Regions from separate parts of the Homo sapiens genome. Here region 1 is linked to region 2. Evidence: fine-mapped expression QTL. Tissue or cell type: whole blood. Region 2 holds a variant in brackets; the other region holds the start of a gene. All regions are shown on one strand. Distances are between the middles of the regions.

The links. PIP is the estimated chance that this variant, and not a neighbour inherited with it, causes the effect.
Region 1: LSR starts here. The variant in region 2 is fine-mapped to the expression of LSR in whole blood (INTERVAL, PIP above 0.99).

The regions. Positions count from the first base shown.
Region 1 is chr19:35,246,291-35,251,435 of GRCh38, forward strand. It overlaps LSR (lipolysis stimulated lipoprotein receptor), which reads left to right and starts at 2,712. Exons shown (of 10, transcript NM_205834.4): 1 at 2,712-2,841; 2 at 4,025-4,369. The coding sequence starts at 2,733. RefSeq lists enhancers at 1,296-1,465, 1,599-2,401, 2,402-3,203 and silencers at 2,316-2,395, 2,806-2,875.
Region 2 is chr19:35,211,719-35,216,863 of GRCh38, forward strand. LOC105372379 (a long non-coding RNA gene) reads left to right here. Exons shown (of 3, transcript XR_935938.2): 3 at 3,917-4,188. Among named protein-coding and RNA genes, the nearest start is that of FAM187B, 14 kb to the right of the region's middle. RefSeq lists enhancers at 1-770, 2,019-2,218, 2,259-2,308. The variant C/T (reference allele first, on the strand shown) is at 2,716.

The sequences.
Region 1 (5,145 bases), 35 kb after region 2:
AAAATGAAATAAAATAAAGTGGCTCAAAGACTCAATTTAAGAGTTAAAACTATAAAACTCTTAGAAGAAAATATTGTTGAAAATCTTCATCACATTGGACTTGGCAACAACTGCATAAATAGGATACCAAAAGTACAAGGAAGAAAAAATAGTAGGTAAATTGAACTTCATCAAATTAAGAACTTTTGTGCACCAAAGGACACTATCAAGAAAGTGAAAAAACCTGGAGAATGGAAGAAAATATTTGCAGATCATATATCTAACAAGGGATTAATATTCAAAATATATATAGAACTCCTACAACTTGACAACAAAAAAACAAACAACCCAATTCAAAAATGGGCAAAGTACTTGAATAGACACTTCTCCAAAGAAGATATACTAATGGACAATAAATTCGTGGAAATATGCTCAACATCGTTAGTCATTGGGGAAATGCAGATTACAACCACAATGAGATGCCACTTCACACTAACCAGGATGGCCATAATCAAGAAAATGGATAATAAGTTTTGGTGGGGATGTGGAGAAATTGGAATCCTCCGTGCATTGCTGGTGGGAATGTACAATAGTGCAGTCATTGGGGAAAACAGTTTGGCAGTTCCTCAAAAGGTTAAAAATAGAACTACCAAGTCACCCAGCAATTCCATTCTTAGGCATATATTCAAAAGAAATGAAAGCAGATATTTGTACACCAGTGTTCACAGCTGCACTATTTACAATAGTCAAAAGGTAGAAACAACCTAGGTCCATCCACAAATGAATGGATAAATAAAACGTAGCATATACATACAATGGTACACTAGTCCGCTGTAAAAAGAAATTTTGATCTTACTGCATGCTACATGGCTTCGACATACTACAACATGGATGGACCTTGAAAACATTATTCTTTGTGAAATAAACTAGACACAGGACAAATGTTAGACGATTCCACTTATATGAGGCACCTAGAATGGGCAATTTGGTAAGCAAAGTAGAATAGAAATTACTAGGGGCACAGGTAGCAGGGAATGGGGAGTTACTGTTTAATGGTCACAGAGTTTATGTTGGGGATGATGAAACAGTTTCGGGGATAAAGAGTGGTGATTGGTACACGACATTGTGAATATACTTAATGCCACTGAATTTTACACTTGAAGTGGTTAAAGCGATAAATATTATAGTTTGCATATTTTATCATAAAAATATTTTTTTAAACGATGAAGGGACGTGAACGGGTTGAAATTTTATAAAAAGTGGCCAGGGAAGGTGTCACTGCAATGGTGTCCTACAGGAGGAGGAAGATCATGTGGACATCTGCGGGAAGGGTGTTCTGGCAGAGGGAGTAGCACGGGCGATGGCTCTGAGGACTGTGAGAAGTATAGTTGGAAACAGCGAGGAGGCCAGGGTGTCCGAAGCTGAGTAAGCCAGAGAGAGTGGGAGGAGGTGAGATAAGAGGGGGAAGGTCAGTTTCTGCTGAGAGTGAGGAGGAGCCACAGGAGGGCTGTGAGCAGGTGGACGTGATCTGGCTTGAGTTTTAACAGGGCCAGTAGAACAAAGCACGCCTGGGTACCGAAACCAGCCACTGGCCAGTTGGCAACCTGGGGGAGTCTAACGCGAGGAAGCGCCCAGGGTTCCCCCAGGATGCGCTTTCCCTCGCCGCCACCTGGAGACAGCAGAGTCACGCCCAGCGCTGCGCAGGCTGATCGCCGCGCCGCGCCCCCGCCCTCGGTCGCAGGTGGCTCGTTCCGGGAATTCCTAAGCGGAAACCGGTCCCAAGCCCCGCGCCTTCGCTCGGCCCCTTTAAGAGCCAGAATTTCCGGAGGGCTGACCCGGGGGCTAGGGATGCCCAGGGGCCGAACCACAAGTTGGGAACGGGTGGGGGAGGTGGCGAAAACTTCCGAAGTGGAATTCCAACTTTTCCTGGCCCTGATTCCCCTTGGGCATCCCTGAGGGGGCAGAGCTTCCCTTCCGGGGACTTTAGAGGGTTCCTCAGGTCATCTAACTGGGAGACACAGGAGGCCCGAAGCGCCCCCCCTCCACCCGGTCCGGAGGAACCCCAGTGGAAGTGGAGAAGTCAGGCGCCACCAACAAGCCTCTCCCAGCCAGGACTTTGCTTAGACTCGCTCCTCCCGGCAGGGCGCACCTAGGCGGGTCCATCGCCAGCCGGGGAGAGGGGTTTGGGCAGGGAGGGAACAGGTGCGCGGCGGGACCCGCCCTATCTCAACAGGTGAATCGCTCCAAGTGGGTCTCGGTTGCATGGATCTCGGTGCGCTTGGTTTGGCCGGAGCAGATGGGGGCCGGAAGGGACCTGTGGTCCGCAGGCGCCCTCCCAGCGGGCCAGTCACTTGGTTCGGGCCCTGGGGGACGGAGCGCACCTGGGTCAGCCCACTTCCGGGGAGGGAGGCAGAGGAACCCCTCCCCGCCGCTCACCCCTAAGCCCAGCCCTCGGCTCCCACCCTTGTGTACCTGGGCCGAACCATTCACCGGAGCGCGCAGCGGGTGGAGTGTGGCTCGGAGGACCGCGGCGGGTCAAGCACCTTTCTCCCCCATATCTGAAAGCATGCCCTTTGTCCACGTCGTTTACGCTCATTAAAACTTCCAGAATGCAACAGGACGGACTTGGAGTAGGGACAAGGAACGGAAGTGGGAAGGGGAGGAGCGTGCACCCCTCCTGGCCTTGGTGCGCGCCGCGCCCCCTAAGGTACTTTGGAAGGGACGCGCGGGCCAGACGCGCCCAGACGGCCGCGATGGCGCTGTTGGCCGGCGGGCTCTCCAGAGGGCTGGGCTCCCACCCGGCCGCCGCAGGCCGGGACGCGGTCGTCTTCGTGTGGCTTCTGCTTAGCACCTGGTGCACAGGTACGGGGCACGGGGCCTCTGACGCTGCGGAACGCCGGAGGGAACTGTAGAGGGGGATGGATGGAGTTGGAGGCGGCGGGAAGCGGGAAGCGGGGGTCTCAGAGGCTGGGACCTTCCGATCCCCTGGGTCTTGGGCGATCTGTTGCGCGCGGGAGTGAGAGGAATTCCCCATTTGTGCCGGGGAGCGCTCCCCGCGCCCTTATCTGGAAGATAGCAGGAAGTGAAACTCCCTGGACGGTGAGACCCGGAGCGGCAGGGAGAATGGAACTCTTTGTGGGGAGGGAGTGGAAGACCGCCCGATCTCTGGGAAAAGAAAAGCCGGGATGGGACTTGGGCGCACCCGGGGATTTCTAAGTTTTGGAGTAACGGGGAGAGGGCACGGGAGGGCTGGATCAGACGCTTCCTAGAGGGACAGAGACGAAGGAACAATGCCTAGGCCTCGGGTGGGTGTGGGACTGGGGACTCCCCATCCCCCGCACCCCACCCACCTCCCGCGGGCTCCGGATTATACGTGCGTAAGAGTCTGGTGGGATGGATTTACGGACTTGAAACCGACTTCTGCTGGCAGGCTTTCACCTGGATGGGATATTTGGGTGGTGATGAGGTCTTTCCCGAGACACTTTTGGTTCAGTCATTTGAAATGACTTTAGAGTAGGGTGAGGTGGTGGGAGGCTGATGGAGATATTGTGGGGGCTTTAGTCCCTCCATGGCAAAGCAGTTCAGGCAAACAACTCCATGGTTTTCCCTCCAAATTCAAAAGGCCCCGGGTAACCTGGAATCCTTCGTAGTCGGTTTTGAAGTGGGGCCTTGGGCGCTGGGGGCATCAACATGGCCATCTGGGCTTGCCTGCCCAGGCCACACAGAGGCCCCTTGTTGTGGGTGAATGGCAAAGGGAAGAGGGGACTGGTGTGGTTCAGAGGCCACAGGCTGGGAAGAGGGATGGCGGGCGAGTCCAAGGAAACTGGCCGTGTCACCGTGCACCTGCCACTTCAGCCCCACGGGTCTATAAAATGGGCATGATTATCGTGGCTACCTCACTGGTCCTGGCAATTAAGGAACAATGTGTGCCAGGCACTCTGTAAACCACATACTTGCGAGTGTCAAGCTGGTGACAGGTGGCGTTCCTGTTGAAGCACCTCCCTGAGCTCACAGCAACCCTTGCTGTCTCTCCTCTTGCCCTCAGCTCCTGCCAGGGCCATCCAGGTGACCGTGTCCAACCCCTACCACGTGGTGATCCTCTTCCAGCCTGTGACCCTGCCCTGTACCTACCAGATGACCTCGACCCCCACGCAACCCATCGTCATCTGGAAGTACAAGTCTTTCTGCCGGGACCGCATCGCCGATGCCTTCTCCCCGGCCAGCGTCGACAACCAGCTCAATGCCCAGCTGGCAGCCGGGAACCCAGGCTACAACCCCTACGTTGAGTGCCAGGACAGCGTGCGCACCGTCAGGGTCGTGGCCACCAAGCAGGGCAACGCTGTGACCCTGGGAGATTACTACCAGGGCCGGAGGATTACCATCACCGGAAGTATGTTGGGCAGGGCAGGGGGATGAGGCTGGGCTTGCCCGGGTGGTGGGACTGGCGTCCTTGTGCGGGACCTGGAGTCCCCATCTGAAAGCTCTTGAGTGCCAGTGTCTGAAAGGACCATTGAAGGGAGCAATTCTTTTTTTTTTTTTTTTTGAAGATGGAGTCTTGCTCTGGACTCCAGGCTGGAGTGCAGTGGTGCGATCTCAGCTCACTGCAACCTCCACCTCCCAGGTTCAAGCAATTCTCTTGCCTCAGCCTCCCGAGTAGCTGGGACTCCAGGTGCGTGCCACCACGCCCAGTTAATTTTTGTATTTTTAGTAGAGATGGGGTTTCACCATGTTGGCCAGGCTGGTCTCAAACTCCTGACCTCAAATGATCTGCCCGCCTTGGCCTCGCAAAGTGCTGAGAGACACCATACCCAGCCTAAAGGGAGCGATTCTATTCTACTATTCTTCCTTCTGCTAATCCTTCCATTCTTTAATTTAATAACGAAGATTTTTTGAGTACCTGTCATATACCAGGTGCTGTTCTGGGCCCTGGGAATACAGCTGTTAACAAAATCATCAAACCACTTCCCTCGTGGAGCCCACATTGCAGTGAGAGAGACAAACACGACACACACTCTCAAGTCCTTGAAGATAAAGAAAACTGGGTAACGGAGAGAAGAGGCCAGGGTTTGTTCTATAATCATTAATAACACGAGCAGTAAGAAGTAAAATTTATCTAAGTAACAACTTATAAAGGGTCTACTGTGTGCTAAGCTCTCATCCAGGTTC
Region 2 (5,145 bases):
TGGAGGAAGGAAGAGGTGGTGGAGGAGAGATAGGTGGCTGGACACTGTGGCAACACCAGCATACCAGGGGCTGGGAGTGGGGGGCAGTCAGGACATGAGGCCAGAAGCTGTGAATCTTGGAATCTGCAGAGTGCCCCTTATGAGACCCCAAGCATTCATGTAAGCGTCCATGCCCCCACTGATGATATCTGGGCAGAGAGGCAATAAAATCAGAGTTGTTGATCAAGATTTGGAGGCTGCGGTTGGAGGCCGGACATCCTGCCTGCAGGGCAGGCTTCAGCTTGGAAGCTTGCGGCCCAGAACAGTCCCCGTGGGCACACCCAGGCAGAGGGTTTTGCTAGGTGTCTGACCCAGCTTCCAAAGCCAGGGTCTAATAACAACAGCGCCACCAACAACAGGAAACATTTGTGACGCACATGCTGCCAAAGCACTGTTCTAAGCACTCCTTACAGTTTAATCCTCCCAACAATAAGAATGAGGTAGGTACCAGTGCTAACCCCATTTTACATAGGGGGAAACTTAGGCACAGAGAGGAGACCCCATGAAAGGCAATGGGGACACCTCCAGGAACCTCCCACCAAAAAAGATCACTGCAGAGTAAGGACAAATCGAACATCAGATTTCCTCAAGGGTGGGCACTTTCTCGATGCATTTCTGGTGCCCTCTTTTGGATTTCAGCCTCAGTGGCCACAACACCACGGGTGTCAGTGACAGGAGCAAACCAAATGCACTGGGGACTCAGCTGGGAGGAGCCGCCCTGGCATTCCCACCATGTCCGTGAAATGGGGGGAATCGTGGTATGTACTTGAGAATCAACAGAGGCTGGGCGAGGAAGACTTGGGATACTTGTGAGCCCATTCTAACATCAGCAATTGCTAATATCATGTTTATTGCCTTGAATAAAAGAGATGAAGAAATAAAGGAAAAAGAGGAAAGGAAGGGGGAAAGGAATGAAGAAAGGAGAGACAAGAAATAAAGCATTTTAGGCCGGGCCTGGGGGCTCACACCTGTAATCTCAGTACTTGGGAAGACTGAGGTGGGCATATCACTTGAGGTCAGGAGTTCAAGACCAGCCTGGCCAACATGGCAAAACCCCATCTCTACTAAAAATACAAAAACTAGGCCGGGCACGGTGTCTCACGCCTATAATCCCAGCACTTTGGGAGGCCGAGGCAGGCGGATCACGAGGTCAGGAGATCGAGACCATCCTGGCTAACACAATGAAACTCCACCTCTACTGAAAAAAAAATACGAAAAAAGTTAGCCGGGCGTGGTGGCATGCACCTGTAGTCCCAGCTCCTCGGGAGGCTGAGGCAGGAGAATAGCGTGAACCCGGGAAGAGGAGCTTGCAGTGAGCCAAGATCACACCACTGCACTCCAGCCTGGGCAACAGAGCAAGACTCTGTCTCAAAAAAAAAAATGCAAAAACTAGCTGGGCATCGTAATGCACACCTGTAATCCCAGCTACTGGGGAGGCTGAGACAGGAGAATCACTTGAACCCAGGAGGTGGAGGTTGCAGTGAGCCAAGGTCGCACCACTGCACTCCAGCCTGGGCAACACAGCAAGACTCCATCTCAAAAGAAAAAAAAAAGAAAAGTATTTTAATATCAAAGAAGAAGGAAGAGGGCCAGAAAGAAGAGATAGGGCTGAAAAAAGAAGGCAGGAAACAAGCAGAATGTTTCCAAAGAGTCCCATGAACTATTCAGAAAACAGTTGTTTTGTTTTGTTTTGTTTTGAGACGGAGTCTTGCTCTGTCACCCAGGCAGGAGTGCAGTGGCATGATCTCGGCTCACTGCAACCCCACCTCCTGGGTTCAAGTGATTCTTCTGCCTCAGCCTCCTGAGTAGCTGGGATTATAGGTACACGCCACCATGCCCAGCTAATTTTTGTATTTTTAGTAGAGACGGGGTTTCAACATATTGGCCAGGCTGGTCTCAAACTCCTGACCTCATGATCCACTCACTTTGGCCTCCCAAAGTGCTGGGATTACCGCGCCCGGCCAAGAATTTTGTCTTTAAAGGAGTTGACAGTGGGGTGTGGACCGTGTAGCCGAGACAGCTTGCAGGGTGAGTTAAGAGTCCGCCTGGATTCCATCCCCAGCCCTGCCACACTTTGTCCATGAAGCAAGTGACTGTCCCTTCCCAAGCCTCAGTTTCTGCACTGCAGAATGGGGACCATTGTCCGTGGCATTTCCACAGGTTGGCGTGAGAACCTGTTGAGCCCACGCAGCAAGGTGTGCCTGTTGTCTATGGTAAGGGGCAGACGGCATTGCCTACTTTCCACTCGTAAGATGTCATTGCATGTACCCGGTTCTCACTTGGCAGATGAATCAAAGGGCTATAAATAGCCATGTCTTGGTTTCTCATAAACGCATTAAATATGACTTGGCATCTTGCCCAGGCTTCCTGTCAGGGCAGTGGACGAGGATTGTTTTGCAGAGGTCTGATGAGTGTCAAGGTTATAGTCACGTGCAGGTGCGTGAGGCAGGACTCGAAGTGAGCCCCAGCTGCCCTGGGGAATGAGGGGGTCTTCCCTTCCACCCCCATGCCCTCCTTGGCATAGGTTTACACCAGCCACTGTGGGCCCTGGCAAGCCCCGCCTTGTGGCTCAGGCTGGGCCACTGGCCTCTTTGCTGGCTTTGCCTGGACTCACCCCACTGGTCCAGCTTGCATTTGGTCAGTCTATTCACAGGTGAATTCTGGGAAGACTGGACC[C/T]GGCTATGGGAAGAGGGGAGAGGAGGGAAAGGTGGACACATGACTCGTGAGCTTGCTGGGCTGTCCTGGGCCCCTCCCTCCATCTTACTTCATGAAGTTCTCTGAGGCTGACCTCACCCCTGACTCAGGGATGAGGCCCTGGGGGTGGCAGATGTGGACTCTGGAACCCCGCTGCCTAGGTTCAAGTCCCAGCTGCTCCATAGAGGACCTCAGGCTTGTCTATGCTCTCAGTACCTCAATTTCCCCCCTCTGTGAAATGAAGGTAATGCCTCATAGAATCTACCTCATGGGGCTGCTGGAAGGATTCAATGGATGTTGATCATGATCATGATTTCCTGATACTCAGAATAATGCCAGGCACAGATTATCTGCTCTGAAAAACGTTTTGCTATTATTATTTTTCTGCTAGTGATAGTTAAGAGCAAGGACTCTAGACCCAGCCCAGTTGGGTTCAACGCTCAGCTCCACCACTTGCAACCAATGTAACCTTAAACCTGGATATAATCTCTCTGTGTCAGAGGCATGTGAACCAGAACAACTCCATCTTGAATGGGGCTGGGTAAAATGAGGCTGCATTCCCAGATGGTTAGGCATTCTAACTCACAGGATGAGATTGGAGGTCAGCACAAGATACAGGTCATAATGACCTTGCTGATAAAACAGTTTGCAGTAAAGAAGCTGGCCAAAACCCACCAAAACCAGAGTGACCTCTGTTCGTCCTCAATATGACACTCCCATCAGCACCATGACAGTTTACAAATACCATGGCAACATCAGGAAGTTACCCTATATGGTCTAAAAAGGGGAGACATGAATAACCCACCCCTTGTTTAGCGTAACATCAAGAAATAACCATAAAAATGGGCAGCCAGATGCCCTCAGGGCTGCTCTGTCTATTGAGTAGCCATTCTTTATTCGTTTACTTTTTTAATAAACTTGCCTTCATTTTACTCTACGGAATTGCCCTGAATTCTTTCTTGTGCGAGATCCAAGAACCCTCTCTTGGGGTCTGGATCCGGACCCCTTTCCTGTAATGTCTGTGCCTCAGTTCCTTCATCTGTAAAATGGGAGTGATGATTATCTGTACCTTATAGGGTGTAATAGGGATAAAATAAGCAAACACCCGCCAAGTACTCAGACGAGAGCCTGGCACACAGTAAATACTCCAATGTTGTTGCTACCATTGATGTTCTTGTTACAGGTGGTTGTGCTCACCCCGCATCAAGGTTGCTAAGCTGCTGTGATGGAATCCTGGAGCTGCTGAAGGACACCTCATCTCTTTGTGGGAAGCATCTGCTTGAGGATTAAGGGAATGCAGAAAAAAAGTGGAGTAGAGAGATGGAGGAAGATGACTTTCGAGGACATTGTGTGAGCACCTGGATCTAACTGTGCCTGAAGCAAAACTCAAACCCTGGACTCTCAATGTATTGGCTCTCAGTTCCAAGACCCAATAAATTCCTTCTTAGCTTAGAATGCTTTGCTCAGATGTCTGTTACTTCCAGCCAAATGTGTTTTAATACAGAAAGCTCTTGGGGGCTCAAATAACAGAAAGGGAAGCTATATGAGAAGCTGAGGGAAGCTAAGGAGAGGAACAGAAGTGATACAGCAGGGTGTGGTGGCTCACGCCTGTAATCCCAGGTCTTTGAGAGGCTGAGGTGGTGGACCACTTGAGGTCAGGAGTTCGAGACCAGCCTGGCTAACATGGTGAAACCCCATCTCTACTAAAAAAAAAAAAAAATTAGTCAGACGTGGTGGCATGCATGTGTAATCCCGGCTACTCAGGAGGCTTAGTCAGGAGAATCACTTGAACCTGGAAGGTGGAAATTGCAGTGAGCCAAGATCATGCCACTGTACTTCAGTCTGGGCGACAGAGCAAGACTCCATTTCAGAAAAAAAAAAAAAAAAAAAGAAGTGATACAGCTTAAGAGAGTAGGCCATGTGGAGGCCACATGCATCATGGGTTAGAATCCAGGCTGTTACTGAGAGCTTGTGGTAGGATGTTGCAGAATGGACACACTCTTTCATGCCTCCTTGTGTACATTCTTACAAGGTGACTTTGCCACTCTTCCCATCAAGGGATGGAGTCTGTGTCTCCACCCCTTGAATCTGGGCTGACCTTGTAATTTCTTTTGGCCAATCAAACATGGTGAAAGTAATGCTGTGTTAGTTTCAAGCCTAGACTTCAAGAAACCTTGCCGCTTCCATGTACTCTCTTAGTTGATCTTGCCATGACCTTGTGAACATGACCGGGCTAGCCTGCTGGAGGATGAGAGGCTGGAGGCTCCCCAGCGAACTGCCCATCCAGCCCCCTGAGGCAGAGCCACCTAGCTACACAGTGCTGGCCACAGATACATGAGTGAGCCCAACCTACATTACCAACCTGCAGAATGGACAGATAAATCCATCAATGTTGTTTTAAGCCATTTTAGA